Linked DNA regions of Homo sapiens: regions 1 and 2 are each linked to region 3. The links come from fine-mapping of genetic effects on gene expression. A gene starts in region 3. Each other region holds a variant in brackets. All regions are shown on one strand. Distances are from middle to middle.

Region 1 (10,373 bases), 25 kb before region 3:
CTCCTTGGGCTGTTGCACGGGGTTGACGTCTGCTGGTGCTCCCAGACCCGGCTCTGACCTGAGACTGCAGGTCTTTCTGCCTTGCCGTGTGCCTCATTGGCCAAAGGAAAGCAACAGAGTCTGCAGCCAGGGCAGGACCCGCAGGAGGGGCCTGGACCCGGGGGGCTCCTGGCAGCGCCGTGCCTTTCTGAGGCAAGGAGGTAGAGCCAGCGGCTGAGGACCTGTCAGGGCCAGTCCCAGCTCTGCAGCTTGCTGTGTGACCTGGCACACATCCTCTCCCTGCCTCCCTCAGTCTCTTCCCCTGCAAGACGGGGTCCTGACACGGATCTCATGGGATTGCTCTGAGGCCCAGGCAGTCCCAGGCTCAACCACTGGTTCACAAAGTGTGTTGTTTCCAGGAAGAACAGATGGGGGCGCCTGAGGGCAAAGGGCCTGAGTGTGGGTCGAGGATATGCCGGCTGCTCGCTCAGGGGCTGGGTTTTCATCTTGTGTGTCTTGACAGGGTGTGACACTTGGCACCACACTGTTCCCTGTCCCTTCATGGATGTGGCCCACATGATGTTCCTTTCCTCTTGCAAAAGAAGTTGCTGGAAGGCCCACTGTCCAGCAGCCCCCAGGTTGCCTGGGCCACGGTGCCTTTGTGGGCCCAGCTACAAGGAGGACTTGCAGGCTCGTGTCTGGGACAGATACTGGCGCCAGGGCCAAGTGAAGCCCGGGATTGGTGGGCATCTCTAGCTGGTCCCTGAGAGAGGGTGGAGGGTGCTGACAGGCCTTGGCGCTTTCATCTGTCAACTCCAGAGGCCCTTGTGCTTGCAGCAGGGAGGTCAAGGCCAGGGCGTCTGACCCCGGCCGCTCCTCCACACTGAGCCTCCTGCACGTGCTCACAGGTAGAGAAGCGGCGGGTCAATCTGCCTAGGGTCCTGTCCATGCCCCCCGTGGCTGGCACCGCGTGCCATGCATACGACCGGGAGGTCCACCTGCGTTGTGAGCTCTCACCGGGCTACTACCTGGCTGTCCCCAGCACCTTCCTGAAGGACGCGCCAGGGGAGTTCCTGCTCCGAGTCTTCTCTACCGGGCGAGTCTCCCTTAGGTGAGAGGAACCGCGCAGTGCTGCTGGCTCTCCGAGGCCACAGGCCCTTCCAAGGCAGGATTTGGGCACTTTCCCTCTGTGGTTGGCAGGTGTCCATGTGGGAACTGAGGCCACCGGGAACCTGCTGCCAGCGCCCTCCCATGTTTGTCTTCTTGGCAGCGCCATCAGGGCAGTGGCCAAGAACACCACCCCCGGGGCAGCCCTGCCTGCGGGGGAGTGGGGGACCGTGCAGCTACGGGGTTCTTGGAGAGTCGGCCAGACGGCGGGGGGCAGCAGGAACTTTGCCTCATACCCCACCAACCCCTGCTTCCCCTTCTCGGTCCCCGAGGGCCCTGGCCCCCGCTGCGTCCGCATCACTCTGCATCAGCACTGCCGGCCCAGTGACACCGAGTTCCACCCCATCGGCTTCCATATCTTCCAGGCAAGCTCCTTGCCCCAGGGAGGGAGGGGGAGCAGAAGGGGCCCTCAGAGAATTTGCATCTTGGCCTCCATTGTCCCAACAGAGGGCTCTGGGCTCAGTCACTTGGGCTCCCCCTGCCCTTCGAGGCGCTGCCTAGAACCCGCACAGGGCCCTCTCCCATCTCCAACCTCTCAGAGGCAAGGCCGAAGATGGCCTCTGGAAGGGCCGGGGGCCTGGGAGGTGGGCAGGGCTGATCCAGGCAGGGCAGGTTTCCAGAGGAGGTGGTGAGTGGGGAGGAAGGGAGAAGTTTGGAGAGGACAGGAGGCCGAGGTTGAGACCAGCGGGGGTGGGTCGAGCCCTGGCTTGGGAACGCAGGGGGCTGATGGACTCAGGAGTGAGAGGAGGGGAGGCCCAGGCTGGCTGGCCACAGCAGCCCCTCGGGTGTGAGGAAGTCCACAGTCACTGAGCTCAGCCAGCAGCCCCTTGTCCACTTACCCTGACTCAGAATGACTGTGTCCCAAGGTTCATTCTCTGCAGACATGTGTCCCCTGGAATGCAGGGGCCCTGACGAGGAAGGCACTGCAACCCTCGGTTCACAGTGGGCTGCCTGGGGACCCTTGGACCCTCGCTGTTTGCCCTGGGCCACCGGCTCAGGTCCCCTAGAGCTCTGAGGAAAACACATGCCAGGGCCAGTGGGAGCCCTTGGGGCGGGCTGGGCAGTCACAGGTGTTAAAGCCCCTGATGATGTGACAGGCCTCCAGGCGGGGGCCCCACTGCCGGCACCTTCTGGCAAGGGTGGCCAGGCCTTGGTGAGGAGGCGAGTCCAGTGTCCAGGCCTGGCAGCCCCTCCTCAGAGAAGGGGCTGTATGTGACTCAAGAGGGCCAAGGGCATCCGAGCAGATGGCCCTGGGCTGGGCTCCCTACCCCAAGGCTGGCCCCCTCAGTCTGAGCCTGCGCTTTCCTCAGGTCCCAGAGGGTGGAAGGAGCCAGGACGCACCCCCACTGCTGCTGCAGGAGCCGCTGCTGAGCTGCGTGCCACATCGCTACGCCCAGGAGGTGAGCCGGCTCTGCCTCCTGCCTGCGGGCACCTACAAGGTTGTGCCCTCCACCTACCTGCCGGACACAGAGGGGGCCTTCACAGTGACCATCGCAACCAGGATTGACAGGTGGGGCTCTGGGACTTGGGGGCGGCCAGCTGGAGGCTGGGGTGCTGGAGTCTTAGTGCTCGCCTGTCCCCCCACGTCTCCTGCCTGCCCCTCACCCTCAAGCCCCTATCTGTCCTGGCAGACCAGGGCTGTCCTGCCTACCTGGGGACCCTTCCTTGCTGGTCTGAGCCTGGAAGGAGAGTCTAGTGGGAGGTGGGCCAGGAGCACACAGCCACTTGTGTGACAAGTGCAGTCTGGGAGCGCTGATCTGGTGTCTCTCCACAGGCCATCCATTCACAGCCAGGAGATGCTGGGCCAGTTCCTCCAAGAGGTGTGTATGCAGCCCCGCCAGCCCGGCTCACCTGCCTGGGGCTGCCTGGTGGCCTAGGGTCTACCTGCAACCTCAGGCAGGTGGTTTCTGCCTGGGACGTGAGGTGCCCTTGACTCTTCCTGTGAGAGCCCCGGGCGGTGCCTTGAAGGGCAGGGGGAGCTGAGGCTGCGTCCCATTCCCTGGCTGCACTCGGGGTGGGGTGTGAGAAGGGGCGAGTGCCACCGCTGCCCGGGCCCCCCATCTGTCTTTGCAGGTCTCCATCATGGCAGTGATGAAAACCTAACAGGGTGGCCCCCTGTGCCAGCTCAGGTGACTGGAGCCCGAGGGCCTGACAGGTTCCCAGCAGCTGGGCCGGCCAGCCTTGCACTGTGGGGGCTGGTCCTGAGTCTTGGCCTGCCTCCCAGCCCTGCCAGGAGGCTGCGGCCTAGGGGTCCACGGGAAGCCTCCGTCAGGAGAGACGCAGCCCTGGGGGCCAGCTGGTGCTGCAAGGAAGGGTGGGAAGCTTGCTGGCTTCTGTTGCGCCACTGAGACGGCAGAGACCCCAGGATCCCAGAGCTTCCCAGGATCCCTCCCAGATCCTCTGCTGACTCCATATGGAGGCCTCACACCCAGAGGGTAGGGCAGCAGATCTTCTTTATAACTATTTATTGTTCGAATCACTTTTAGGATGTAACTTTATAAATAAACATGAGCGCTGATGATTTGCAGATCAGTCTTGCTCCAGGTAGTTCCAGGCTGTGCCTGCTCTTGCCAAGCAGGCTGTGGGGAGGGCTGGGTGCCTGCCGAGATGGTGAGGATGAGGATGGCCTCTGGAGGGGCTGGGGGCCTGGGAGGTGGGCAGAGCCAACCCAGGCAGGGCAGGTTTCAGGGGGAGATGGTGAGTGGGGAGGAGGGGAGAAGTTTGGAGGGGCGGGCCCAGGGCATGCCCCAGGCCAGGGGGCTGAGGTTGAGGCTGGCCGGGGCAGGTCAAGCCCTGGTCTTGGGGGACACAGACTGATAGACTGGGGAGTGAGGGGTGGGGAGAGCCAGCGAAGGCACTGCCAAGGCTGTGGCGAAGAAGGACATCTCGGAAACGGGTGTTAGAACCGGAGTTGCGCAGAGGGAGGAACCCCAGGTTCACATGGACTGGGAGCCTTGGATCTGGACGGCTCCTCTGCCTCCAGCCAGGGTTCACCTGCGCAGTGTCCTAGGATTGTTTATTTCCCCAGGCCTCTCTCCCTCGTCCCTCACACCAAATGCTGTGATGAGAGCTGTAGTGTCACTGAACGGTGCAGAAGACAGTTCCAGACATGGGTGGGGAGGGCTGTCACTAAGCCCTTTTGTTTTAGAGACAGGGTCTTGCTCTGTTGCTCAGGCTGGAGTGCAGTGGCATGATCATAGCTCACTGCAGCCTCGACCTTCTGGGCTCAGGTGATCCTCCCTCTTCAGCCTCCCAGGTGGGTAGGAAAACAGGCGCACACTCCATGCCTGGTTAGTTTTTTCAAGTTTTGAATGCTTAGGGGTCTTAGTATGTGGTTGCCTAGGCTGGCCTCAGTGATCCTCCTGCCTTGGTCTCCCAAAGCACTAAGATTGCAGGCATGACCGCCAACCCCAGCTCTAATCCCTTTTAAATTCCATTCGCTTCCTGAGTCCCTTTGTGCCTGGGGAGACCCCGTGTATTGGTCCTTTTTCACATTGCTGTAAACAACTCTGAGACTGGTAATTTATAAAGAAAAGAGGTTTGATTGCCTCAGTTCCGAAGACTGTACAGGAAGCATGGCTGGGGAGGCCTCAGGAAACTTAGAATCATGGCGGAGGGAAAGCAGGCAGTCTGCAGGTGTCTGGAGAAGGAGGAAGAGAGCGAAGGGGAGGTGCTGTGCACTTTTAAATGACCAGATCTTAGGAGAACTCACTATCACCAAAACAGCAAGGGGGATATCCGCTCCCATGATCCAATCATCTCCCACCAGGCTCCTCCAACACTGGGGATTATAATTCGACATGAGATTTGGGCAGGAACACAAATTCAAACCATAGCACCCAGTGAGCCTGATTTGGGCCTTGCTGCCGGATCACGACCATCTCTGGAGTCCTGGTGTCTGTTCCCACTGGGACCTGTGCCGCTGTCCCCCTCTCCACGCCCTGGCCACGCCAAGCCACCCTCCTGACTCACCCACAGGAAGCTGCCCTGGCCCTGGAGCCTGCCCCGTGAGCCCCTCTGCTTGCTGGTTCAATGGCCCTCCAGCAGCAGTGGCTGTGGCAGCTGGGTTCTCGGCATCTTCAGACACGGATTCTTGAGCAGCAGGATGGGGCTCC[A/G]TCTCCCTGCGTGCAGAGCCTGCCACAGATCTCCCTCATCCACTGGCTTCTGTGCTGACTTCGGATGAAGCCAGTGGTGCCGCCTATTGGGGTACAGCAACTCAGGGCGAACAGTGAGGGGCGGCTCACCAAAGAAATACCCCGCAGGGCAGTGCCCAAGCCAGAGGCTTGAGCTGGGTCGGAGCTGCCCTAGATCCCTGGGTTTGTGGGCGGACAGGTCCTGTGCAGGGCGCCTGATGGTGCAGGTTGAGGTGGGACAGTTGGGGTCAAGGTATTTCTCAGGCACAGTGCCTATGAAGGGAAGACAGTTGCAGGGACTGTGTCCATGTCAGGATAGACTGGTGGGGACCCCGTGAAGAGTTCTGGAGCAAACCCTGCCTGCAGGGCCCCACCTGGGCTGGCCAGGCCCTTATGTTGAGCATCCCTTCCCCCAGGCCCTCAGGAGCCACTGTCCCCGAGGCAGGCCCTGAAGGTGGCGGCCACACCCTCCTGCTGGGCAGCTCTGCCCAAAGGCCACAGCCAGGACCTGCTTCCCGCGTCCCAGGCTACTGCCTGAGAGGAGGCCTCGAAAGCGCAGGGTTCCGTGACTTTAGAGGCCATGGTTGGCACCCATCATCGCCCCAGTGTAGATTGGCTCCACTCGACCTGGCTGCTTTGGCCATTTGGTCTACCAGCTGGAACCATGTTCCTGGGTGTGGAAAACGCTCCCTCCGAAGCCTGCGGAGAGCCCTGAGGCCTTGTGCTTCCTTCTGATGGGAGGTTCCAGATGCAGTTGGAGGGGATGTCTGGCAGGGCTCTAACCCCCAGCCAACCTAAACATTTCTGGTGCAGAAGGCCCCGGCCTGGTGTTGTTTGTCCCTGGCTGCCTCCTGCTCTGACACCATCAGCATCCTGTTGCCAAGGTCATGGATCAGTGCGGTGCTCTTCAGGGTGTCCGGCCAGCTGGGGTCTCTGTCCTGTATTCCGGCAGAGGCCCCAGGAGAAACAGCAAATGCCTTTGTCCATTCCATACAAATTTCATATAAATGTGAGCAGCTTCTGATCTTCCGTGGCGTATTCGTCCAGTTGATGGCCAACCCTGGGTACCTGGACCTCCAGGACCTGCTGCACTGGGCTGCCCCTCGGCTGTGTGTGCACTCGCCACGTGGCCCTCCAGGAATCCCATCCCACGGGGCCACACTGAACCAAATGGAGAGAGCAGGGCCACCACCCTCTCTCCGCATGCCACGGCTGCTCTGGGACCCGGGCAGGAGGGGACAGTCTTGGCCTTCCAGTGTCCCTCTTGGCCTTCCCACGGCCATCTCTACCCCAAGGATGCAGCAGAGATATCGGTCGCTCCCCAGGTGTCAATCCCAGTCACAGGCTCAGAGACCGGGACATGGCCCCGGGTGGGTCTGTAGGCCCTGTGGGCTCATGTGAGCTGGTCCTGGGCAGGACTCCATTATTAACTGCCTGTGATGTGTCCCACTGTCATGGAGCCCTGGTGACTCTTGGGGACCAGCATCAGCTTGGGGCCTGTGTGCTCAGTGGCTCCCAGATGCCTGGATATTCTCTTCCTGGTGCACATAGTCCCCGGGGAGGTCCTTGTCATGCACACTTGCTGATGTGGGGAGTGTCCTTCATCTTGCAGGCCTGGCCACCTCTTCAGTCAGCAGATACCTGGGCTGAAAACCGACTCGGGCAGTGTGGGCCCAACTGGGGCTCTATCGGAGTGACCACCCTCAGCCCTCCTGGACCCCTCTGCCGGCTCCACCTGAGCGCTGCCCTCGCTGGCAGCCCTGCCTTGCTCTGCTGCCATTCCGTAAGCCCTGCAGGCAGGCCCCTTGGCGCCCTTCAGCCGTGTTCATGATTGTCTCCTGGCCTCTGCTGTTTAGAGGTCTAATGCCCTCCGCCCCCGGCGAGCCAAACCCAGTGATGGTGGTTCCTGCCACCAGCTTCCTGTGGCACCGCTGCCACTCCCGCCAGGCTCCTGGGGCACCGCCACCACTCCCGCCAGGCTCCTGGGGCACCGCCGGCCACTCCCGCCAGGCTCCTGGGGCACCGCCGCCCACTCCCTCCAGGCTCCTGGGGCACCGCCGCCACTCCCGCCAGGCTCCTGGGGCACCGCCGCCACTCCTGCCAGCCTCCTGCGGCACAGCTGCCACTCCCTATTAACCAGCATGGCACAGGTGAGCGGTGTGACCTTGGTCTTCCCAGGGAACCAGTGCTTGGCAGCTCACACCACACACGCCTACGCCTACCCTCCACCAGCCACAGCAGTTGTGGCATCTCTACCCTGCCCAGCAAAAGTGGAAGTGTTGCCTGTGCCGCTAGGAACCTCCAGGTTTGCTCCACCTCCAGGGGCCTTGCCAGGGTGTCAAACCTGTGTCTCGGGACACTGCTGTTAGGTCTCCAGCTTCCCTATCAGGCGCCTCAGCACCCAGTCCTACCAGTGCTCCCGCCTCCCGTCCCCAGCTGGCTGGGCCTGCAGCCCCCTCCTGTGCCCCGAGCTGGCCGGGCCCGCAGCCCACTCCCTGGTCACTGGATGTTGCTGACACTTCACTCGGTCAGAGCCCTAGCACCCAAGGGGGGCCAGGGCCTGACGGGGGTGGAGCGAGGGGTGGGCCGCGTCTGTGCAGGCTCAGAAGCTTCCTAAGAGGCTGGAGAGTGGAACCTTCAGGCACCACGCACTGCCTCCTCCCTGCCCACGGTCCTGGTTTCTCCAGATGGGGCCTTGGCCTTGGCTAGGTGTTGATCAGGAGCTGGGAGTGCTGCGCCCCGCCCAACTTCTCCAAACTCCAGCCAGGGCACCTCAGTGAGGCCTCAGCCACCTGCGCCTTATTTGCTTCCTCCTTGGAGGCCCTCGTGTCTGTTCATTCATCAAACAGCAGCTGGGGCCCCCAGCAGACCCCCTTCCCCAACTTTCCCACTGGACACTGGAACCAGTTTCACAACTGGACTGGACAGGACGACCACCTTGTGCCAGGCGCCAGCTATCTCCCCTGACCAGTGATGGGTCCTCATTGCCCGTGGGCCGTGAGTGACCCAGTTCCAAATCCCAAATTAGTGACTCTCTTCTCCAATGGGGGTTGGATTCTCCAGAAGCAGAGGCAGACATAGAATTTGGGTGCAAGGTATTTCGGAGGGAAGGTGGAAGAGGTGGGGTTGGTGAGGGAGAAGCCTGGAGTGTCGGTGGCCGGGGTGCCCCCACCTGGCTGAAACGCCTGGTCTTTGTGCCCTGCCTGGCTCAGCCTCCCCAGGCAGACTACCCCATGGCATCCCTGGACAAGGCTGCCCCCAAGAACGCTGCCCACAGCCCAGCCATGGGCCTTCCCTTGGGGCTACCGCCCCGGCTCACACCTGCTGGCCAGCGTATTTACTCCTTGCTGGCTGCACCCTCTCAGCAGTGGCTGTGTAGACCATAACCCTGGGAACACCTGCGGGGAGAAGCGCCCTTGGCCTGGCGGCTTGGGGGAGACACCTGGGGTGTCAGGAGGGAAGGAAGGCAAGCAGGGGTGAGGCACTGTGGGACTTTTCCTGCTTTCTGGGCCAGTGGCCACAGGCCACCCAGTGACATTTCTCTCTCAGCGTCTGCTGGGGTGGACTCTGCAGCGGCTGCAGCCAGCCTGGATCGGCTCCTCGCACAGCTCTGCTTGAGGGTGAAGGCCATCTAGAAACCCTCAGTCCCCTCTCAGCCTCAGAGCTGATAGCGCTGCCTGACCATCAGCAAGCTTGTAATCAGCACCACCTCCAGCATGCCTGCTCCTGGATCTCCGTGAGGCTCCCCTGCCTGTGTCACCCAGGGGCCTCTAGGGGTGCTCTGGAGCTGGGAGCCACTGTCCAGCACTTCCTGCCCTCTCCGGCCTCTCTTGGCTGTCTGCCAAGCAGTCACTCAGTCTCCTATTGACCACTCGTTTTGCCGCAAGGCTGCTGGTTTACGTGAAAATAGAGAAAGCCAAAGAGTTTCCTCACCCCTGTAAGATTTACTGGCTCTTCTGGCATTGCACCTGCCTGAGTTCCTTGGTGGGGCCCCTCTTTGAGTTCCTTTGGGCTGCTGTAACAAAGCACCATAGCCTGGGCAGCTCGTAAACAGTGGAAATGCGTTGCTCTTTGTTCTGGAGGCTGCAAGTCCAAGATTGAGGCACTGGAAGACCTGGTGCCTGGTGAGGACCTGCTTCCTGGTCCAGAGACAGCACCTTCTCTCTGTGTCCTGATGTGGTGGAAGGGCAAAGGAACTCCCTGGGGCCCGTTTTATGTGGGCACTCATCCCATTCGTGACGCCTCTGCCTTCATGACCTCATCACCTACCAGAGGTCCCCACCTTTTCATTCCTCACCTTGGGGATGAGGACTTCAGTATGTGAATTTCGGGGACATAAATGTGTCATCTATAGAAGGGCCCATCTCTTACACAAATGCTGGGTCCCCAGTGGCCTGTGTCCTAGCAAATGAGAGCCACCCTGAAAAATAAAATCCTGTCTCCCCAACGCCAGCCCTGGCAAGGCACCCAGAACTCTCCGGAATGCTTGAAGGCAGGGCCTGGCCTTTCCATGGGGTCCAGGGCTGTGGGGTCCCTGGCGGTACTGTGGGCCTGCAGAGTGGGGCATGTGGGCTGAAGACCGTCTCCCCACCATGGTGGGAAGGGACAAAGGGTGGCCCTGGCAGATCCGGACGGGCAGGACTGGGTGTGTCCCATGAGAGCACCTCCTTCCTGGCCTTTCCTGTGGACTTTGTCCCACACCACCTGCCTGGGTTCCTTCCTTTAGTCACTTCCAGCTCCAGGCACAGCAGTTGGTGACTCCTTGGTGGGAGCCGTGTCCCACCCGGTCCTGATACTGCCGTCTTCTCTTTCACAGTCCTCCAGGCTTGGGCCAGCCTTGGGGGCAGCAGAGCTTCTGGGGTGAGTGTCGAGATCCTGTGTCCTGAGAGCGGTAGTCAGGGAGAGGGCTGGTCGGGGCAGGGCTGCCCGGGCAGGACACAGGATGCGGCCGGCCAGGCTGGGGCCAAGGTGTTCAGACCTGGACTTTGGGCTCGTGCTTTCTTCATGGTTGCGCCTTGCTCGCTGTCCCTTGGAGTCTTCATTTGGTTTTGCTTTTTTTGTTTGTTTGTTTTCACCTAATTTTTGCCAGACTTA
Region 2 (10,373 bases), 26 kb after region 3:
TCTGGATTGGGTGTGTCAGGGATGGGCGGTGGTGACAGGTATGTGTCATCTTTGATGGGCAGGCGGCACAAAGCCAGGCTGGAGCTGTCTCTGGACAACAAAAAACAGTCCCTCACCTGGGCCAGGGCTGTTTCTGCAGGTACCTGATGGTGTCTTTCGCTTTGTTTCCTCACAGACGCAGGCTCCTGGTGCTGTCTTCCTGTGACGTTGTCTTCCTGTGACGTTGTCTTCCTGTGACGTTGTCTTCCTGTGACGTTGTCTTCCTGTGACGTTGTCTGTAGCCAGCAGGAGACACGACGGCACGGTGGCGTGCCCGGCTTCGGGCTGGGTGTCCTGGGCGTCCAGGCAAGTGAAGGCTCTTTTCTTCTGGTTGTGCCCCCTTCTGCCAGGGCAGCTGCAAGTAGACAGAGAACACACACCAGTGATGTCAGAGCTGCCCTTTGTCGAACTTCTGCTTTTTCCCAAGGTCTCCTGCAGAAGGTTGTCCATAGCTGGACTGGAGCTGTGCAGCTGGCTCCTTTGCAGCAGGATGCAACACGGAATCTTTTCACCAGACACCCGCGGGGTGGGCGCTCACCAGAAACAAAACCGCCCTGGTGCTTGCTGGGCCACGAGGCCGGGGGTCTGCGTTGGCGGCCGGCAGCCTCTTCTGTAAAGGGCCGGTCGGTGAACGTCTCCAGCCCCCTCAGCGAGGAGACCACGCTGTCGGCGGAGGGTGAAGGCAGCCGCAGACAGCGGAGGATGACACGGACAAAGGCCAGGCTGAGCTCCCGTGACCCTGTTTACAGAAATAGGCAGTGGCCCATCTGGTTGTAGTTTGAGACCCCGGCTCTGTGTGTCCCAACCCAGGAGGGGCTGCCTTGGAGGCTCTTCCCGGCTGCCCTGCATGAGCTGTAGTGTTCATGGAAGCGCGGGAAGAATCTTTGGCCAAAGCCCCGGCTCCCCCTTGGCTCCAGGAAGAGGCAGCCGGAGCCCTGCGCGTGTCCCTGACACCTCGGACCAGGGAGTGGAGGAGGGAGAGTGGCTGGGCTTCCAGGGCAGAAGCAGCACCCCCAGAAGAGGTGGCCCATGAGGAGCACGGGGGGCTTTGGGGTGCGTGGTTCCTCTCGGAGCCAGCGGCCCCTGGTCCCGAGCGAGTGTCCTCTGAGCGGAGGCTCGGGCCCCTGCCCTGGGCGCACTCAATGCCCCGCCCGCTGGTACCCTGAGCAGAGCAGCTGCCGGTGGCGGCGCGGGGCCTCCTGTCACACCCCCTCTGCATGAGCTGGGCTTCGTTGATGGAGCTGGAAGCTTCGCAGTAGCGGAATTTGTTCGTACAGGACCAAGCCCAGCTTTTCTAAGGGCTGGGGTGAAAATAGGAGGGCAATTTAAGTGCCGTTCGAGTTGTGGAAAGGATTAGCTGCTGAGCGTCAGGCAGCAGGCTCCGCGTACGGTCCTGGGCAAGGCCAGCAACGCAGCAGGGGCAGGAAGCTCCGGGCCGGGAACAAACAGGACACGCGCTCTGGCATCTCGGGGGGAAGTCGGCCTGGAATGGGGCAATAGGGGGGTTGGGATGAACTGGAAGGCAGAGAGGGGCTCTGAATTACTGGCGGTGAAAGCCCTGTGTCCGCCCCCTCAGAGGCAAGCATCCCTGTAGGACCATCTGGGGTCCTTGTGAAGCAGGCCTGTGCCCCCACAGGTGATGTGACTTTCGTCTCTGCTAGTGACAAGCTCTGACAGCGCTTGAAGACTGGAGGGAAGTGGACATTGGCGACTGAGTCCAAGTCACACAGCAGCCCCACTGACGCAGCTTTGAGAGCCGTGGCTGCCTGTGCCCCTGCACACGCTGGAGTCTCCAGGCCAGTGCCCACTCTGCCCTGAAGGAAGCAGAATTGTCAGCTCCAGCTGTCACGGGTGTGGCCAGGCAGTGGCTTGGGGCAGAGGTGGCCAGAGAGGGGGTGGGGGTGACAGTTTAACCTCTGAGGTCCTTTCCACACCCAAGACCAGACATAGGAAGCGGGAGGTGAAGGCCACATAACAGGGAGGGTTGTCAGGGATCCTGGAAAGTCTTTGTCACTGTTGTTTTGCCTGGGGCAGGACAGGCTGAAGAGGGGCAGGTGTGACCTGTGAACTCTGCTCAGGGCCCCTGGGCACCTGTTGTGTTAAGGTTAGGGGGGCCTCCCAGCAGAACATCCCAGGGAGATTCACTGGAGGAGAACGGGCCCCACGCCCTTGGGGTCGCAACTGAGTTCAGGGTCCCTGCTGGATGTCCAGTGGCCTGTCCCAACTCTAGGCACCCCCTAAAGCATGCTCTGGGACACCCTGGTCCTGAGAGATGATAGGGTGAGCGGCCTGGGAGAGGAGAGGCACTTTGGGGAAACAAATCTGGGCAGCTGGTTTGCCTGGGGAAGACAGTGAATGGGGCTGGCTTCCAGAGGTACTCAGAAGCCGGTACTGTGGCACCAGGTTTAAGAAAAGACAAGCTTTGCTGTGGGTCAGCAACAAGGAGACAGGATGCAGCTCACATCCATCTCCCCTTCCTGGCCTTAAGGCAGTGCCGTCATTAGGAAAGGTCTGGGGTGGGTTCTGGGATTAGCGGGTGATTGCCGGAGGGAAAGGGGAGGTCTGAAATGTCCCCTGGGCATGTGCAGCTGTGTCTTCGTGCCTCTGCAGGGTCACATGTGCTGATTCAGGGGCAGTGAGTATGAACGTGAGGTGGAAATTTGGGCCGTGATGTCAGCAAGCTGCTGCCCACTCCAGCCGGCCCTTTGGGTCCCCAGGATCTCAGGCAGTTTTATTCTCACAAGGAGGGAATTTCCAGCACGCTGCTGCTGTTCTTACCTGCCGTCATGTGAGCTCAGGAATCCCCGCTGTCAGTCACCGGTCTTTTTAACCCTTCGGGGCACGGTGTCACCTCCCCTCCCCGGCCCCAGCTGCTTCTCCTCCAGAGCTGGATTCAGGACTGAAGGAGGGAGGGAGGCAGCACCGAGGCCAGGTCTCCCACAGGCAATCCCCAGCACCCGCGATGGATGGACGAGGGAAGGATGTTTTGTGGAAACGGTATTTCCCAAACATTCCTAAAAATCAAGTTTTAGTGAGTTGAACATAACTGGTCTTCTAACTACTGTATATTCATCTCTGGGTCCATAGAAGAGAACAGTGTTTCTGCATCTCCCCAGATGTGAGACGGCTCCTATAAAACCCTCACCGAACTTCCCTGGTGCAGGGTCTTAAAAGGCGGCCACACCCAAATAATGTCCTTCCCTTGTCAGAACAGAAGGAAAGGAAACAGTGCCCCCAGGAAATTCACTTCCAAATGAGCTTCGTGTAGAAATCACTACCCCAAGAACTAGAATTCCGTCCAGCTTCAATAGGACCAATTGTGTAATCAACTCACCACCACAGTGGAACCAAAGGAGAGGGCAGGACAGGCTGAAGAGGGGCGGGTTTGACCCCCGTACTCTGCTTAGGGCCCCCAGGCCCCTGTTGTGTTAAGATTAGGATGGCCTCCGAGCAGAACATCCCAGGAAGATTAACTGGAGGAGAAAGAGGCCCCCAGCTGCTTCTCCTCCATGTGAGGAAGATACATATTAGCTCCAACAGGAGGTCCAATATTAGCTCACAAGAGAGGGAAAATGGGTTTCTGACTCACTGAAACTTGCGATTTGGGAAAAAGATCAATGAGAGGGCAGGGGATGAAGGACCTCTGGTTCCTGGATGAAGAGACTTATTAAATAACAATGACACAAATATGCTTCTTGCAGTATTCGGAAATCAAATAATGTGGAAATGGTTTACTAAGATTCACATTTACATAATGTACATTTATAAAACACTACCCTAAAAATTACATTAGGTCTCCATTTGAGATATTGTGTAACCATTTCATAATAACAAAAAAAAAAATAAAAGAGAAAAACATGGAAATTATTTTAGAAGACAAAGTTCTTGCTGTGTTTCTGGATAACTTTATTACACTAATTAACAACAACAAGATAATGTAATTACACTTCCCACTAGTGGGAGGGCATGAAAGCCCTTAATCACTGGGAGTCATGTTTGAGGAACCTGCAGGACATTATAGAAGAATTATAATCTGTTAGATTTCCACTTAAGTCGCTGAATGATCACTCAATAGCCACAAAACTAACAGAGAAAAAAATCAGCATCGCTTTAGTAGAGAGCAAAGCGTCTTGCGGTGGTTCTGGGTCTTTGGAAGTGGGCTCACCGGAAAGTGGGGTCACTCGGAGGCGAGACACTTCTGCTGTCAGGCTGTGTGGACAGCTCTTGGTGTAGGCACATTTCTCTGCTCTTCAGTGGAGGAGATTCTGGGCCAGGGCACCCTCACAGGGGAAGACTCCTAGCAGTGTCTTCCTCCCTTTCTGGAATCTGGAAAAGGACAGAGTCCTCTTCCTAGGAGCTGCACCCCAGAACCCTTAGGACCCTCTAATATGTGGCAAGGGGATGAGGAGAGGATGGAGCTGGGTCAGCAGCACCCTTTCCTGTGGGAGGGTTGGATCAAGGCAGCCAAACTGTAGGTGGTTCCGGGAACACAGGATCCACAGCCTGAGTTCTGGTGCCTGGCCTCTGGGGTGGGCCCACGTGAGGCTCTGGCTCCTGGGCCTGGGATGTGTGGTCCACCCTGGGCCCTGGAACCCAGACCTCACCTGCCACAGCCAGGTGCTCCTGCTCCTCAGGCTTCCATCACCGCGAGGGGCCTCTGGCAGATGCACCCCATGCAGCATCAGGGAC[A/G]TGAGGATGCTCTGGGAATCCTAAACTCCTTCTTCCATAATTTTTATCTCACACGTTGTGCGGTAAAGAATTTAACCTTATCCAAAAAGATGTCTAGCCCTTCCCTTGGCTTCTGGAAGGTCATGTCTAAGCCCTTAGAATGTCATGACTGATAGGAGTGTCTTTGTTTACCTTTGTTTGCCTTGGATAATGCCAGATAGTCTAACAAGGTGATTTAGGGTGGTGGCGGGCCACACTTGATAGTATTTAGGTGGGGGCTAACCACCAGAAAGACCGACAATGTGATTTAGGGTAGGGGCTTTTGGTCACACATCTCAACCTCCTGAGGGCTGGAGTCTAAGGTCAACTATGTGAGCAATCAGTCAGTCAACCAATCAATCAACCATGCCTACATATTGGAGCCCCAGTAAAAACTCTGGGCAGAGAGCATCAAGTGAGCCTCCCCAGCTGGCCGTGCTGCAGGTGTGTCACCACACGTACATGCCAGGAGAGCAAAACTGGCCTGACCACACAGGGAGAGGACAACAGAAGCCTCTTGTTCTCCTGGATTCTGCCCTGTGTGCAGCTTCCTTGGCTGACTTGAAACTGTGTCCTTCTTCTGTGATAAACTGTAACCACACCTATAACAGCTTTCGGTGAGTTTTATGAGTCTTTCTATCAAATTACAGAACCTGAGGGTGGTGTGGGGTTCCTGGAACTTGTAATTGGTGTCAGAAGTGAGAGTGCTCTTGAGGACTGTTTTCTCTGTCGTCACATTTGGCTAAAGCTCTTGGAGTTGGAGTTGGAATTGGAAGTGAAATTCACTAGAATGACCCTGACTCACTGAAACGTGTGGTTTGGGAAAAGGATCAATGAGAGGGCAGGGGATGAAGGACCTCTGATTTCTGGATGGCCATGGGTCACGTGTGGTATGGAGCTGCAGCCCTGCTGTGGTCAGTTGCAGGAGGTAAAAGTTTCCAACAGAATTTGGAAATGATGGATCCAGATCCCCAGGAACTGGCTGGCCGGATGAATAAGGAAATACAAAGTAACAAAAACCAAGCTACATATGCAATCTCTTGGTTATTGTGTTCCCTAAAAGCTAAAACAAAAGTTAAGAGAGGGTGAAAGTAAAAGAGAGATCCTTCATCCCCTGCCCTCTCATTGCTCCTTTTTCCATACCACATTTTTTAGCGAGTCAGGGACATTCTAGTGAATTCCACTTTCAGCTGCAGGAATTTTATCAAACTGTAAAGGCAGAGAAAACAGTCCTCAAGACCACTCTCATTTCTGACAATTACAATGATAGGCTATTACCACGGAGACACAACAGTAGGCTATTAACTACTAACAGCCCGCTGTTGACCCGAAGCCTTACTGATAACATAAATAATTAACACTTATTTGGTATGTTATAGGTATTATAAATTGTATTCTTCCAATAAAGTAAGCTAGAGAAAATAAACTATTATTAAGAAAATCATAAAGAGGGGAAAATACATTTACAGTACTGTACTGTATTTATCAATATCATTAAGTTTTCTGTCATCTGTTTACAAGATGAATTGTCTCTCTGAAATGGCACAACCGCACCTGCAGACCTCAGTACGTATCCAACAATTCAACTTTTTTCTTGTAATGTCATGACTTTTCTCTGCTTCTTGGGCACTTCCAGCATCACTAGTGGCACTTCATATGGGTCCACTGTGAGTTATTGTTTCTGTAAAAGCTGAAATGAAAGCAAGAGAGAGGTTCTGAGCCTGAGCCAATGGGTAGTGAGGCCGAGGTGGTTGCCTTGGGGCCATGACCGATGGGAAGGTTAGAGGGAAAGGTAAGGAAGATGTTGGGCTGAATCCTGACATTGCACCAATCCTGGGTTCTGGGAGGTCCAAGCTATAGTCGCTGGCCTCAGGGCCAAAGGAAAAAGTTGTGTGGAAACAACAGATTGTGGGGAAATTCAGACTGCTTTGCAAAAGAATGAGGAAAGTCAGGTGGGAGAGTGAAGGAGCCCATCCCAGCAGGTGAACATCCTTCAACAGTTATTAAGAAATGGAAAGAACATGGCCGGGCTCAGTGGCTCATGCCTGTAATCCCAGCACTTTGGGAGGCTGAGGTGGGAGGACCGCTTGAGGCCAGGAGTTTGAGACCAGCCTGGTTACATAGCAAGACCTCATCTCTAATTAAAATAATAATAATAAGCCTGGGCGCGGAGGCTCACGCCTCTAATCCCAGATCAGGAGTTCGTGACCCGCCCGACCAACATGGTGAAACTCCGTCTCTACTAAAAATACAAAAATTATCCAGGTGTGGCGGTGGGAGCCTGTAATCCCAGCTACTCGGGAGGCTGAGGCACAAGTATCACTTGAATCCAGGAGGCGGAGGTTGCAGTGAGCTGAGATCACGCCATTGCACACCAGCCTGGGTGACAAGAGCAAAACTCCATCAAAAAAAAAAAAGAAAGAAAGAAAGAAAGAAAGAAAGACAGACAGACATGGGCAGAGCAAAGCAGACATTAATGGGGTTAAAACAACACTCTTACGGCAGCACTCTCAGAAACTGGAACTGCTGGGAGCTCCTGTGTGCCCCAAACTAAAGGGCCTAAACCTATGTTCATCCAGTTTGGAGAAATAGAAAACATTAGAAGGCAAAGGTGACCATGAGCAAGTTGGCCTCCAGTCACCTAGAGTGATGCTCCTGCAATCCAATCAAGATAAGGGCTTGATTGATGAGAGGGTCAGGCATCCTTTGGCCTGACCCCTGGCTGGGGACCCAATGCTATACACCCATGAGTGGGTAAAATGCTCAGGGGATGGAGAAGAAATGTTTCTGGGACTCCTCAACACGAGAGCCCCATGCACTGAGATTGCTCCATGGTGAGCAGGTCAGTGCAAACCTACCCGCAAAGGCCCCAGGAGCTGAGAGGCCGAAGAAAGAAGCTGACAAATACAGCTTCTCAGAAAGAAATATAGAATAGGGACTTATGTGGCTCACGCCTGTAATCCCAGCACTTCGGGAGGCCGAGGCAGGTGGATCACCAGGTCAGGAGATCGAGACCATCCTGGCTAACACGTGAAACCCTGTCTCTACTAAAAGTACAAAAAATTAACCAGGTGTGGTGGCAGGCACCTGTAGTCCTGGCTGCTCGGGAGGCTGAGGCAGGAGAATGGCGTGAACCCAGGAGGTGGAGCTTGCAGTGAGCCGAGGTTGCGCCACTGCACTCCAGCCCGGGCGACAGAGCGAGACTCCATCTTAAAAAAAAAAAAATAGGGACTTATGAACAGAAGCCACGTCTCAAGGGGCTGTGAGCCACTTGCCCTCCAGAAAGCATCTTTTTTTTTTTTTTTGAGATGGAATCTCCCTCTGTCACCCAGGCTGGAGTGCAGTGGTGCAATCTCAGCTCACTGCAACCTCTGCCTTCTGGGTTCAAGTGATTCTTTTGCCTCAGCCTCCCAAGTAGCTAGGATTACAGGCATGTGCCACCACACCTGGCTAATTTTTGTATTTTTAGTAGACATGGGGTTTCACCATGTTGGCCGGGCTGGTCTCAAACTCCTGACCTCAAGTGATCCGCCTGCCTCAGCCTCTGAAAGTGCTGGGATTACAGGTGTGAGTCACTCACATCAGGCCAGAAAGTATCCTTTATCTAGCAAGCTTGTGTGATAGAACGTGTGCAGCTGGTCATATCTTCGGACATTCTTGCCAAGACGTGTGTCCACTGAGCAGGTTAGATAGACGTCTTTTTGAAGGGTTCTCTCTGCTGCAGGCAATGTCTACAGACCCTACTGCAGAACACCTTGGTATGTGGGGATCAAACACTGGTCATCATGGTGTTTTTGCTTCGAGATAAATACACAGCAACAGGCTGTTCTCCTACTGTGATTCCAAACCTGTTGGTGAAGTCTCTGTAGAAGCTACAGCTGGGGTGGGAGGGTGCAGGAAGCAAAGGTTGATGGGATGAAGGTGAAAGTTCCGATGAATATCGGAATGTTTGAGCAGATTTTATGTGATGTGGTTGCACCTGCTGCACCTGAATGTGTCATGGGGGTAGATACTGCATCTGGCTGGCAGATGCTTCCCTTAGGTCACATGTAAAACAGAAGACAGGTGTATTAGTCCATTCTTACACTGCTGATGAAGACCTACCTGAGACTGGGCAATTTACAAAAGAAAGAGAGGTTTAATGGACTTACAGTTCCACATGGCTGGGGAAGCCTCACAATCCTGGCAGAAGGCAAGGAGGAGCAAGTCATGTTTTACGTGGTTGGCAGCAGGCAAAGACAGAGCTTGTGCAGGGAAACTCCCATTTTTAAAACCATCAGATCTCGTGAGACTCATTCACTATCATAGAAAGACCTGCTGTCATCATTCAATCACCTCCCACCAGGTTCCTCCCATGTCATGTGGGAATTGTGGGAGTTACAATTCAAGATGAGATTTGGGTGGGGACACAGTCAAACCATATCAACCATATCAACAGGTAAATCTACCTTTCAGCCAATATTGGCTGGGCATGCTAAATGGAGCCAATAACGTTGTCTAAGCCCACAGAGGTCATTAATTTGAAACAGTATTAAACAGCTGGTGGACAAAAAGGGCTTACCACTTGAATGAATGCCCTGTTAGAAGCAGGAGTGCAGGCACACATTCTCTGTATGGTCCAGCCCTGTGTGAGGCAGACCAGGACTCACAGTCAAGCCTGTGAGCACCATCCAGCAGTGAGAAGTGCGATTTTGGACTGGAAATTTCTGTTTGAGAGACAATTTGCGGGTTACTGAGCTTTGATTAAGACTGTTCCTATGACTGAAGGACATAAAATAACCCCAGAACCTGAAATACCCAGAATGTCTTAAGCATTGCCAGAGAAACACTCCCATGGAGAGGTCAGTGCCCAAAAGAATTCCGGAATAAAATGGAAATTTTATTTAATTTATGTATTCGGGTACAGGTACATGCTCCTGGGGGAAGGTAGGAGGAGCTCATCACCCCATGAGCAGAGCCTCTTTTCCCCGAGGACGGACGTTGGAATCCTCTGAGGAGCTGCCAGATGCTGTCACCATGAAAACAGTGCCCAACGGATCAGCAGGAAGCTGCTTGGTTTATGGACAGCAGGTTCAGGCAGAATGGGGAGCATCCTGTTTGGAAGGCTGTCCCTCTGTTTTGTTTTGTTTTTTTTGTTTGTGTTTTGAGACAGGGTCTTGCTCTGTCACCCATGCTGGAGTGCAGTGGTGTGATCACTGCTCATTGCAGCCTCAGACTCCCAGGCTTGAGTGATCCTCCTGCCTCAGCCTCCCTAGTAGCTGGGACTACAGGCACCCGCCACCACACCTGGCTAAGTTTTAAAATTTTTTTTTAGAGATGGGGTCTGGCTATGTTGCCCAGGTTGGTCTCAAACTCCTGAGCTCAAGTGATTCTTCCTCCTCTGCCTCCCAAAGTGCTGAGATTACAGGCATGATTCTCTGATTGAAGAAGGAAAAGTCAAACTAGCTCAGTGGGCTGACTTGCATGTGGTTTTCCTGTTTGGGTTTTTACTGACTCATAAGGGGTGGCCGGTGACATGGCCATGTGATTGCAGATAGCCAGTGGAAAACTAGTCTATTAAAGAAAGGGCCCCTTGAAAATCACCGTGGGAGTTTCAGGGGTGCATTAAAGTAGAACATGACAATATC
Region 3 (8,975 bases):
GTTCAAGCAATTCTCTTGTCTCAGCTTCCCGAGTAGCTGGGACTACAGGCACGCGCCACCACGCCCAGCTAATTTTTGTATTTTTAGTAGAGATGGGGTTTCACCATGTCGGCCAGGCTGGTCTTGAACTCCTGACCTCGTGATCCCCCTGCCTCGGCCTCTCAAAGTGCTGGGATTACAGATGTGAGCCACTGCACCCAGCCAATGTGTTGTTTTAGTAAACCAAAACTATGCAAAGGACGCATGAGGATCCAAGCGACTCATTTAGGATGGCAGCTTCACTGCAAAAGGAGTCTCGATTCAGACCTCAAGACATGCTTCGTGGGTCTCACTCAGGAAGGAAGTGGAGGCAAGTCAGAATGTGGTGAGAAGAGAGGGTTTATTGAAAGTTGCTCCATTACAGAGCAGGGTGTCGTCAGAAAGCAAGAGGGGGAACACCCCAGCTTTAACTTTTTCTCATACAGGGGTCTCGTCTGTGTAAAGACTAAGCTAAACTGTGCCTAACATGTATTATTCTATTGATTTAAAGAAAACTGTCTGTCACGGGGTCTTGCTCTGTTGCAACCAGGCTGGAGTGCAGTAGCACGATCTCAGCTCATTGCAATCTCTGCCTCCCAGGCTCAGGTGCTCCTCCCGCCTTAGCCTCCTGAGTAGCTGGGATTACAGGCATGCACCCCCATGCGTGGCTGATTTTTTTTTTTTTTACTTTTTGTAAAGATGGGGTCTTGCTATGTTGCCCAGGCTGGTCTCAAACTTCTGGGCTCAAGCCAACCTCCCACCTTGGCCTCCCAAAGTGCTGGGATTAGAGGCCTGAGCCACCGCGTCCGGCCAAGGGTAGTTGTCTGGAAAGCATATATTGTTCTGGATACCAGGGCACTTGGACACTTTGCTGTCATAGAAGTGTGTCCACGCAGGCGTCACTGGCTGCTGCTTTAGCTGTAAACATCGTATGACCATGGGCTGTGGCTGGCAGGTATGTGCCTCATTGGTCTCAAGGTGGAGCTGAACGTAAACGGCTTTTCTCTGGCTCTCCCAGGCTCCTGCTTCCCTGACATCGCCTCACAGACTTCCCTTCAAAGCAGGGCTGTCCAATCTTTTGGCTTCCCCGGGCCGCATTGGAATAAGAAGAATTGCCTTGGGCCAAACATGAAATACACTAACACTCACGATAGCTGATGAGCAAAAAAAGGTCTCTGCGTAAATCTCATAATGTTTTAAGAAAGTTTACAAATTTGTGTTGGGCCACATTCAAAGCCCGCAGCCCGAGTGTTGGACAAGCTTGCTGCAGAGGCTCCCCTAGATAGGGCTGCAGGGGTGGCGTCCGGCAGCTCTAGCTGGAGAAGCAGGAGGAGGGGCAGGAAGGAATCCTGTTCGGAGCTCCTCGCGTCACACATACAGCCCAGCGGGGTGAAGTGGGAGGGGCTGGCGCTGCTGCAGGGGGCTAACCTTGGGGGTGAGGGGGCAGCCTCGGAGAGGAAGCTGCCCAGGAGCAGAGGCTGGGGGCGGAGGGCCCCGGGCAGTGCCCCCGTGCCCACAGCAGGACCCTGGCTGCCAGTTCTCCGCAGAGGGCCAGGTGGTCTGAAGCTGCCCAGCAGGGAGAGAACAGGCCTGGCCTGGACTGGAAACCTGCCATCTGGCCTCTCGAACCTGGGGACTCCGGGTGTCCTCGAAGAAGGGCCTGAGCAGCAGCAGAGGACCCCAGGCGACCGTGCCTGAGCCGGGCGCCGACGACGACTGAGCACCTGATATGTCCCCGGCACTCGCAGCCCCGCGGCCGGAGTCGCTGTGGGTGAGCGGTCGTCGAGCTTCACAGAGGCCGGGCTCTGTGCCAGGGCCCCGACAGGGCAGGAAGCAGATAGAGTCCCACAAGCACAAGCCCAGTGCGCAGAAAGGGTTACTTAAAAAATAAGTTCTGTGATAAAATCAAACAGGGTGAAGGGCTGGAAACAGGTCATGAGGGCGCAAACAGGTCGTGAGGGCGCAAACAGGTCGTGAGGGCGCAAACAGGTCGTGAGGGCGCAAACAGGTCGTGAGGGCGCAAACAGGTCGTGAGGGCGCAAACAGATCGTGAGGGCGCAAACAGGTCGTGAGGGCGCAAACAGGTCGTGAGGGTGCAAACAGGTCGTGAGGGCGCAAACAGGTCGTGAGGGTGCAAACAGGTCGTGAGGGTGCAGCTTTGGGGAGAGAGGGGCCCTGGGGGTGAGCGGGGAGCTAGGAGAGAAACAGCGCTCTGGAGGGGCCCGGGCAAGGCCTGCCTGAGTGGGAGGGGGCAGAGCACGAGGGCCCAGGCTCCAGGCTGGGTGGGACTGCCCTGAAGTGCCTGCGGAGACAGCCAAGGGGCAGATGGAGAGAGGTAGGGGGTGGGCTGGGGACAGCGTTTCCTGTACACAGGTGGAACCTGGTGGCAAGGGGCCCTTCCCAGAGACAGTCAGAGTCTCTAAATGTCCAGTTTCTTCCCCAAGTCCACACAGCCCAGAAGAATCCGCTGGGACCATGTGGCCCTGCCCAGTGGGGCTTCCCTTCCAGTGTGTGAGGAGCACAGGTGCCAGGCCACGTCAGGGAGGCCAGGCCTGGTGGGGACGGGGTGCCCCAGGCCACTGCTGGGGAGGAGTGATGCCCAGCAGAGGGGGCACGGTGGAGTTCATGGCTGGCCTGGTGGTGGGGGGGGTGGGGGAGCTCTGCAGGGCCCTGGCTCTGGTGGGCTGGGTAGGCCTGCTTGGGGCACCATCTGATCTGCCAGAGGTGGAAGGAGCACTCCTGGGAGATGCCGTGCCCTGCACCTCCAGTCCCTGCTTGACGGCGGCCGGGCTTGGACTGATCAGGTGCCGTGCCTTCTGCTGACCCCAGAGGCCAGACCCTGTGGCCAGAGTGAGGGATGGATGAAATCCCAAATCTGAGCCTCCTGCCCGAGGATGAGGCCCCTCTCCAATGAACATCATGGCCCATGGAGACTGGGCAGGGAACCCAAGGGCGCACACTGGGGACTGGGCCTGGAGGGACAGCCGGGGAAGCAGGAGGAAGGGCAGGAAGGACAGCAGGAGGAAGCAGGAAGAAAGGGACAGGAACCAGGCCCGGGATGACAGCAGAGAAGGACCAATGCCCAGCCAGGGCTTCCTCACGTGCCTCTGGGTAGAGAGCCCTGGTCTGGCTCAGGAGGCCCAGGCACTGGTCTCAGACCTGCCACCACCTGTGTGACGCTGGGCCAAGCGCTTCCCTTCCCTGGGCGTCCGTTTCCACCGCTGTAAAGTGGGGAGGGGTGAAACTGAAGCTCTCCCCAGCCTATCCCAGCCGTTGAGGAGGGAGAGGCTGTGGTCAGGGGCTGTGGGGCCCACGTTGAGGAGACGAGGCTCCTGCCCTCAGGGTGGACAGGGCCCAGGAAGGGGGTGCTCTGCACCATGGGGGCGCAGCCTGGGCCTACGGGCTCCCCCACCATGAGCTCAGAAGGAAGATGTCCGCTGAGGAGTTGGGGGCCAGGGAGAATATTCTAGACCAGATAGGGGTGGTCTGGGTAGGCTTCTGAGGGGGTGGGCTTGGAGGAGGGGCCGGTGGCCAAGTCGGGGGGAAGCAGGGGAGGAGCCAGCCTGCCTGCGTGTGCCTCTCACCTGTGTGCATTGGCGTGTGCATGTGTGTGTGCATGTGTGCCAGCGTGTGTGTGTGTATTGGAAGGCGCCCACGGAGCGTGTCTGCATGAACCAGGATGAGTGTGCGTGCTGCACCCTGTCTTGGGGCTGGGCATGAGGCGCTGGGGAGGGCGAGCTGACCGCAGACCCTGGGAGGGCTGGGCCCTGGGAAGGTTTCCGAGATGACAGGGCAGAAGTGGGCTGGGGAGGAGGAAGGCTCCGTGGGCGGGGCTGGAGCGTCTCTGGTTTTGCTGTCTGTCTCTCACGCTGTTTCCAGAACAAATGTGTGCCCTCAGCAAGGATGCTGGCTCTTCAGAGGTGTCAGCACAGGCAGCCGGCACCCCACTTCCCTCCCAGAAATCCCCCACGCCCTCTAGCTGGGGCTGGTGCAGGAGCAGTGGGGAACTCCTGTTACCCCTGACCTGCTGCCGTCAGTCAGCCGCCCGCCCCCCCACCTTAAGGAGGGGCAGAGTCAGGGACCAGCCCTGAGGGGTGGCTCACCCCAGCTTCACTTCCCCCAGCCCTTCTCAGACAGCCACTGTGCAGGCTTTGGCAGCGGGGGTCACACACTCCACCCGGGAGGCCAAAGCTGCCTGCAGGTCAGTGCCGCCCACTGCCCTAGGGGCCTCCCAGCGGGGCAGGGGCATGGTGGGGGTCTCAGAGTGGGGTGAGGCTGTGATGGGGTCTCAGAGCAGGGTGAGGCTATGATGGGGTCTCAGAGTGGGGTGAGGCTGTGACGGGGGTTCTCAGAGCGAGGTGAGGCTGTGACAGGGTCTCAGAGCGGGGTGAGGCTGTGATGGGGGTCTCAGAGCAGGGTGAGGCTGTGATGGGGTCTCAGAGTGGGGTGAGGCTGTGATGGGTGTCTCAGAGTGGGGTGAGGCTGTGATGGGTGTCTCAGAGTGGGGTGAGGCTGTGATGGGGGTCTCAGAGTGGGGTGAGGCTCTGATGGGGTCTCAGAGTGGGGTGAGGCTGTGATGGGTTCTCAGAGCAGGGTGAGGCTGTGATGGGTTCTCAGAGCAGGGTGAGGCTGTGATGGGGTCTCAGAGTGGGGTGAGGCTGTGATGGGGTCTCAGAGTGGGGTGAGGCTGTGATGGGGGTCTCAGAGTGGGGTGAGGCTGTGACGGGGTCTCAGAGCGGGGTGAGGCTGTGATGGGGGTCTCAGAGCGGGGTGAGGCTGTGATGGGGGTCTCAGAGCGGGGTGAGGCTGTGATGGGGTCTCAGAGCGGGGTGAGGCTGTGACGGGGTCTCAGAGTGGGGTGAGGCTGTGATGGGGGTCTCAGAGTGGGGTGAGGCTGTGATGGGGGTCTCAGAGCGGGGTGAGGCTGTGATGGGGTCTCAGAGCGGGGTGAGGCTGTGACGGGGTCTCAGAGTGGGGTGAGGCTGTGACGGGGTCTCAGAGTGGGGTGAGGCTCTGATGGGGTCTCAGAGTGGGGTGAGGCTGTGATGGGGTCTCAGAGTGGGGTGAGGCTGTGATGGGGAGTCTCAGTGAGGTGAGGCTGTGTTGGGGTCTCAGGTGGGCTGAGGCTGTTGGGGTCTCAGGGGTGGCTGAGGCTGATGAAGACTTGGAGCCTGTGTCTGGGTAGCAGCTTGTTGGAGTGTGGGATGTGACATTTAAAAACAAGAATGAAGAATACCCCGTGCTGTGGCCCCGAGGTGAGCAGCTACTTTGGTGAACTCGTGTCACTCACAGCCCCATCCTGGGTCCTGGGGTGTGGTGTGCTGTGTGGGGCCCAGGCCCAGTGGGGTCACAGGTACGGGGGACTCTGGTGCCTGGGCCACAGGGATCTGCACCTCACTGCGTGCCCCCACGTCTTCAGCAGTGGTTGGGGCCTGTGGTCTCAATCCCAGGCCAGCCAGGCACTCTGGGGTCTGGGCGGGTCCCGGGTCCAGACAGGGGGAAGGGCTGGGGAGGGGCTCTGGTGTGGCTGGATCGCCCGTCTATGGCCAGGTTTCTCTCCTGGATCACTCAGTGCAGAATCAAAGGGCACTTTTCTGCTTTTGTGTGCAGAAGCCGAGGGTGACCTTGTCATCAGAAGGGGAAGCGGGGCCTCAGAGGCGTGCTGCTGGCTCCAATCCCCAAAGCCTCCTGGGCAGGAAGTGGAAGGGCCCCATCCCCACGGTCCCCGGCAGCGGGAGCTCCCTGAGGCTGATGGTGCTGGTGTCTGTCGAGGAAGACAGGCCTGAGGAGCTGAGGCGGGAGGCCAGCTACGGTCCACGGCCTGGACACAGATTCCTGTGCGGGACTGGGGCAGTAGGTGGGCATCTGTGCTGGCCATGTTAGCTCCCAGGGGCCCCATGCCATCTGGGCTAAAGCCTGGGCCTTGATTTCCTGAACTTTTCTGGGAGGCACTCCACGGGCGAGACAAGGACCCATGAACAGGGCACTTCTTCGAAGCCTACGTGCACCTCGAAACTCTTGCAACATTTGCATTTTTCTCCCTAATAGTTCAGTGTTTGTTTTATTATAAACAGGAAAATTTAAATGTTGTAGTTAGAGTTTTTTTCTTCTTCTTAGAGATGGGGTTTCACTCTGTCTCCTAAGGCTGGAGTGCAGTGGTGGGATCATAGCTCACTTCAGCCTCAACCTCCTGGGCTCAAGCCGTCTTCCTGCCTCAGCCTCCCGAGTAGCACGCATCACCAGCCCAGCTAATTTTCTGTCTTTTTTTTTTTTTTTTTTTTTTTTTTTGTAGAGACGGGGTCTCCCTGTGATGCCCAGGTTGTTCTTAAACTTCTGGCCTCAAGTCATCCTCCTGTCTCAGCCTCCCAAAGTGTTGGGATTACAGGCATGAGCCACCGTGCCTGCCTGCAGTTAAACATTCCCCCACAAAATACTGGGCCACACCGAGGCTAGTATGAAAGTTGCAGCCCTGGGTATGTGTGACCTGAGAGCCCCTTGGCAGCCATGGGGAGCGATGGGGGAAGCTGGGGCAATGGGAAGGGGTCTAGGCACACGAGCCCTCGGGTCCTCACCTCCCACGAGGCAGGGTCCCAGGCTGCCTCTACTCAAGGTGGGGCAGCAAAAGAATCGCCCTCTAGCTGTGCAGACCCCCTCCCCCTCCAGGTCTGCACACCGCCCAAGGCTGGCCCTGGACTTCTGGTGGATTCAAGTACTCAGGTGGGGAGAGTAGGAGGCCAGTCGCACGGAGCCCTCCCCAACGCACAGTGCCTGCCCAGCTCAGGTGCCTCTGAGGTGTAGATTCTGAGCAGGTTCTGGGATCTCCTGGCCCCCAGCGGGGGCTGCCACAGGAGTATAGGCCCAACAGGAAGGGAAGATCCCAGCGATTGGTTCCAGTGGGTTCTGGGGATGTCCTCGGAGCCTGGCCTGGCTCAGGGTCCCTCCAAAAGTCCCTGGAACGAGGGTGAAGTGTTGCTCATGAATCAGAGAGAAAGCAAGCAGGACCCTCAAGAAGGGAGGAGAGAGACCACTGGGCGTGCAGCACTTTGCACTCGGGGGAAGGGCTCCTGAAACTTGGAAGTCAGCAAATATCTGCTGTACTTCACCAGAGGTGGGATCTAAGGAGACAGAATGAAGCCAGGGGGCAGAATGTTTCGTTTCTGTCTGAAACCTGTGCCCTCCATCCCTCATGGACTGGGGACCTGGAGTTCCCGGGGACCACCGTGGGGAAATGCGTCCCAGCACTAATGGTCCCCAGCAGCTGCAGTCACGGGGTTTGGGCGCTCTCCCCTCCTGATTTGGGGGACCTTTTGTGCTCCTCTGGGCAGAGGGAGGAGGCAGAGGGAGGAGGAAGGCCCTTCGCTGTGGGCTGAGTCCTTCCCACCTTCCATACCAGCCCAGCAGGAAGCCACTGCAGGATGCCCCAGAGGACAGCCTGATGGTTGGGGGAGAGGCTTCTCCCGCCCTCACCCCTCCGGGTTCTTCCTGGACCCACTGAGTAACCCAGGTGGTGGGACGTGTGGCTGTGAGTCCTGGACTCTGGGCGCTCACCAGCAGCTCCGTCTCACACCTGCCTGCGTGTGACACCAGCACCCCTTATGATGAGGAAACAAGTTTGCCCAGCTGCAGGGGTGGCCGAGTCAGGATGACTCTAGCCCGTGTCCTGGACACCAGACCCTGCCCAGGTCCAGCCGGGGCTGGTCTCAGCCTTCCTGGGCTATGTCGCGGAGGGTGTTGGGGACAGCGAGAGGCTGGCGTGGACAGTGGAGGGGTGACTTTGTGGGTGGTCCTGATAGTGACGGAGAGGAGGATACTCAGCTCCACCCCTGGGCGGCCCCTGAGCAGCACGACTGGGCCTGAAGGGGCAGGGCTGCCGTCACAGGCTCTGGCCCCTGGGAGCTCAAGGGGTGAATCCCTGATCCCAGGTGTGGGACTGGGATGGGGCCTCAGGCTGATGCAGGCAGGACCTCCAGAGCTCAGGACTGGGTGGGTGGGCTCACAGGGAGGTAGGGGCAGGCCAGAGTCCCAGCTGTCCTGGACTCTGCTGTGGGGAAGGGCTGATGCAGGTGTGGAGTCAAATGTGGGTGCCTCCTGCAGCCGGGTGCCAGGAGGGGTGGAGGGGCCACCCTGGGCTTTGTCCGGGAGCCTGGTCTTCCCGTCCTTGGGCTGACAGGTGCTGCTGCCTCTGAGCCCTCCCTGCTAAGAGCTGTGTGCTGGGTAAGGCTGGTGGCCCTTTGGGCTCCCTGTCCAGGATTTGCGCTCTGGAGGGTAGGGCTTGCTGGGCTGGGGACTGGAGGGGAACGTGGAGCTCCTTCTGCCTCCTTTCCTGCCCCATGACAGCAGGCAGATCCCAGGAGAGAAGAGCTCAGGAGATGGGAAGAGGATCTGTCCAGGGGTTAGACCTCAAGGGTGACTTGGAGTTCTTTACGGCACCCATGCTTTCTTTGAGGAGTTTTGTGTTTGTGGGTGTGGGGTCGGGGCTCACCTCCTCCCACATCCCTGCCCAGAGGTGGGCAGAGTGGGGGCAGTGCCTTGCTCCCCCTGCTCACTCTCTGCTGACCTCCGGCTCCCTGTGCTGCCCCAGGACCATGAATGGCACCTACAACACCTGTGGCTCCAGCGACCTCACCTGGCCCCCAGCGATCAAGCTGGGCTTCTACGCCTACTTGGGCGTCCTGCTGGTGCTAGGCCTGCTGCTCAACAGCCTGGCGCTCTGGGTGTTCTGCTGCCGCATGCAGCAGTGGACGGAGACCCGCATCTACATGACCAACCTGGCGGTGGCCGACCTCTGCCTGCTGTGCACCTTGCCCTTCGTGCTGCACTCCCTGCGAGACACCTCAGACACGCCGCTGTGCCAGCTCTCCCAGGGCATCTACCTGACCAACAGGTACATGAGCATCAGCCTGGTCACGGCCATCGCCGTGGACCGCTATGTGGCCGTGCGGCACCCGCTGCGTGCC

The links.
Region 1: its variant is fine-mapped to the expression of GPR35 in gastroesophageal junction (GTEx, PIP above 0.99).
Region 2: its variant is fine-mapped to the expression of GPR35 in whole blood (INTERVAL, PIP 0.99).

What each region holds. Positions count from the first base shown.
Region 1 is chr2:240,595,432-240,605,804 of GRCh38, forward strand. CAPN10 (calpain 10) reads left to right here. Exons shown (of 12, transcript NM_023083.4): 8 at 888-1,090; 9 at 1,250-1,511; 10 at 2,457-2,656; 11 at 2,921-2,966; 12 at 3,220-3,673. The coding sequence ends at 3,249. It also overlaps a transcript of GPR35 not described here. Among named protein-coding and RNA genes, the nearest start is that of CAPN10, 14 kb to the left of the region's middle. The variant A/G (reference allele first, on the strand shown) is at 5,262.
Region 2 is chr2:240,646,163-240,656,535 of GRCh38, forward strand. No RefSeq gene overlaps it. Among named protein-coding and RNA genes, the nearest start is that of GPR35, 26 kb to the left of the region's middle. RefSeq lists a silencer at 10,169-10,218. The variant A/G (reference allele first, on the strand shown) is at 4,729.
Region 3 is chr2:240,621,350-240,630,324 of GRCh38, forward strand. It overlaps GPR35 (G protein-coupled receptor 35), which reads left to right and starts at 4,131. Exons shown (of 2, transcript NM_005301.5): 1 at 4,131-4,219; 2 at 8,600-8,975. The coding sequence starts at 8,604. RefSeq lists enhancers at 205-264, 285-424, 3,328-3,477, 4,085-4,591 and a silencer at 8,763-8,975.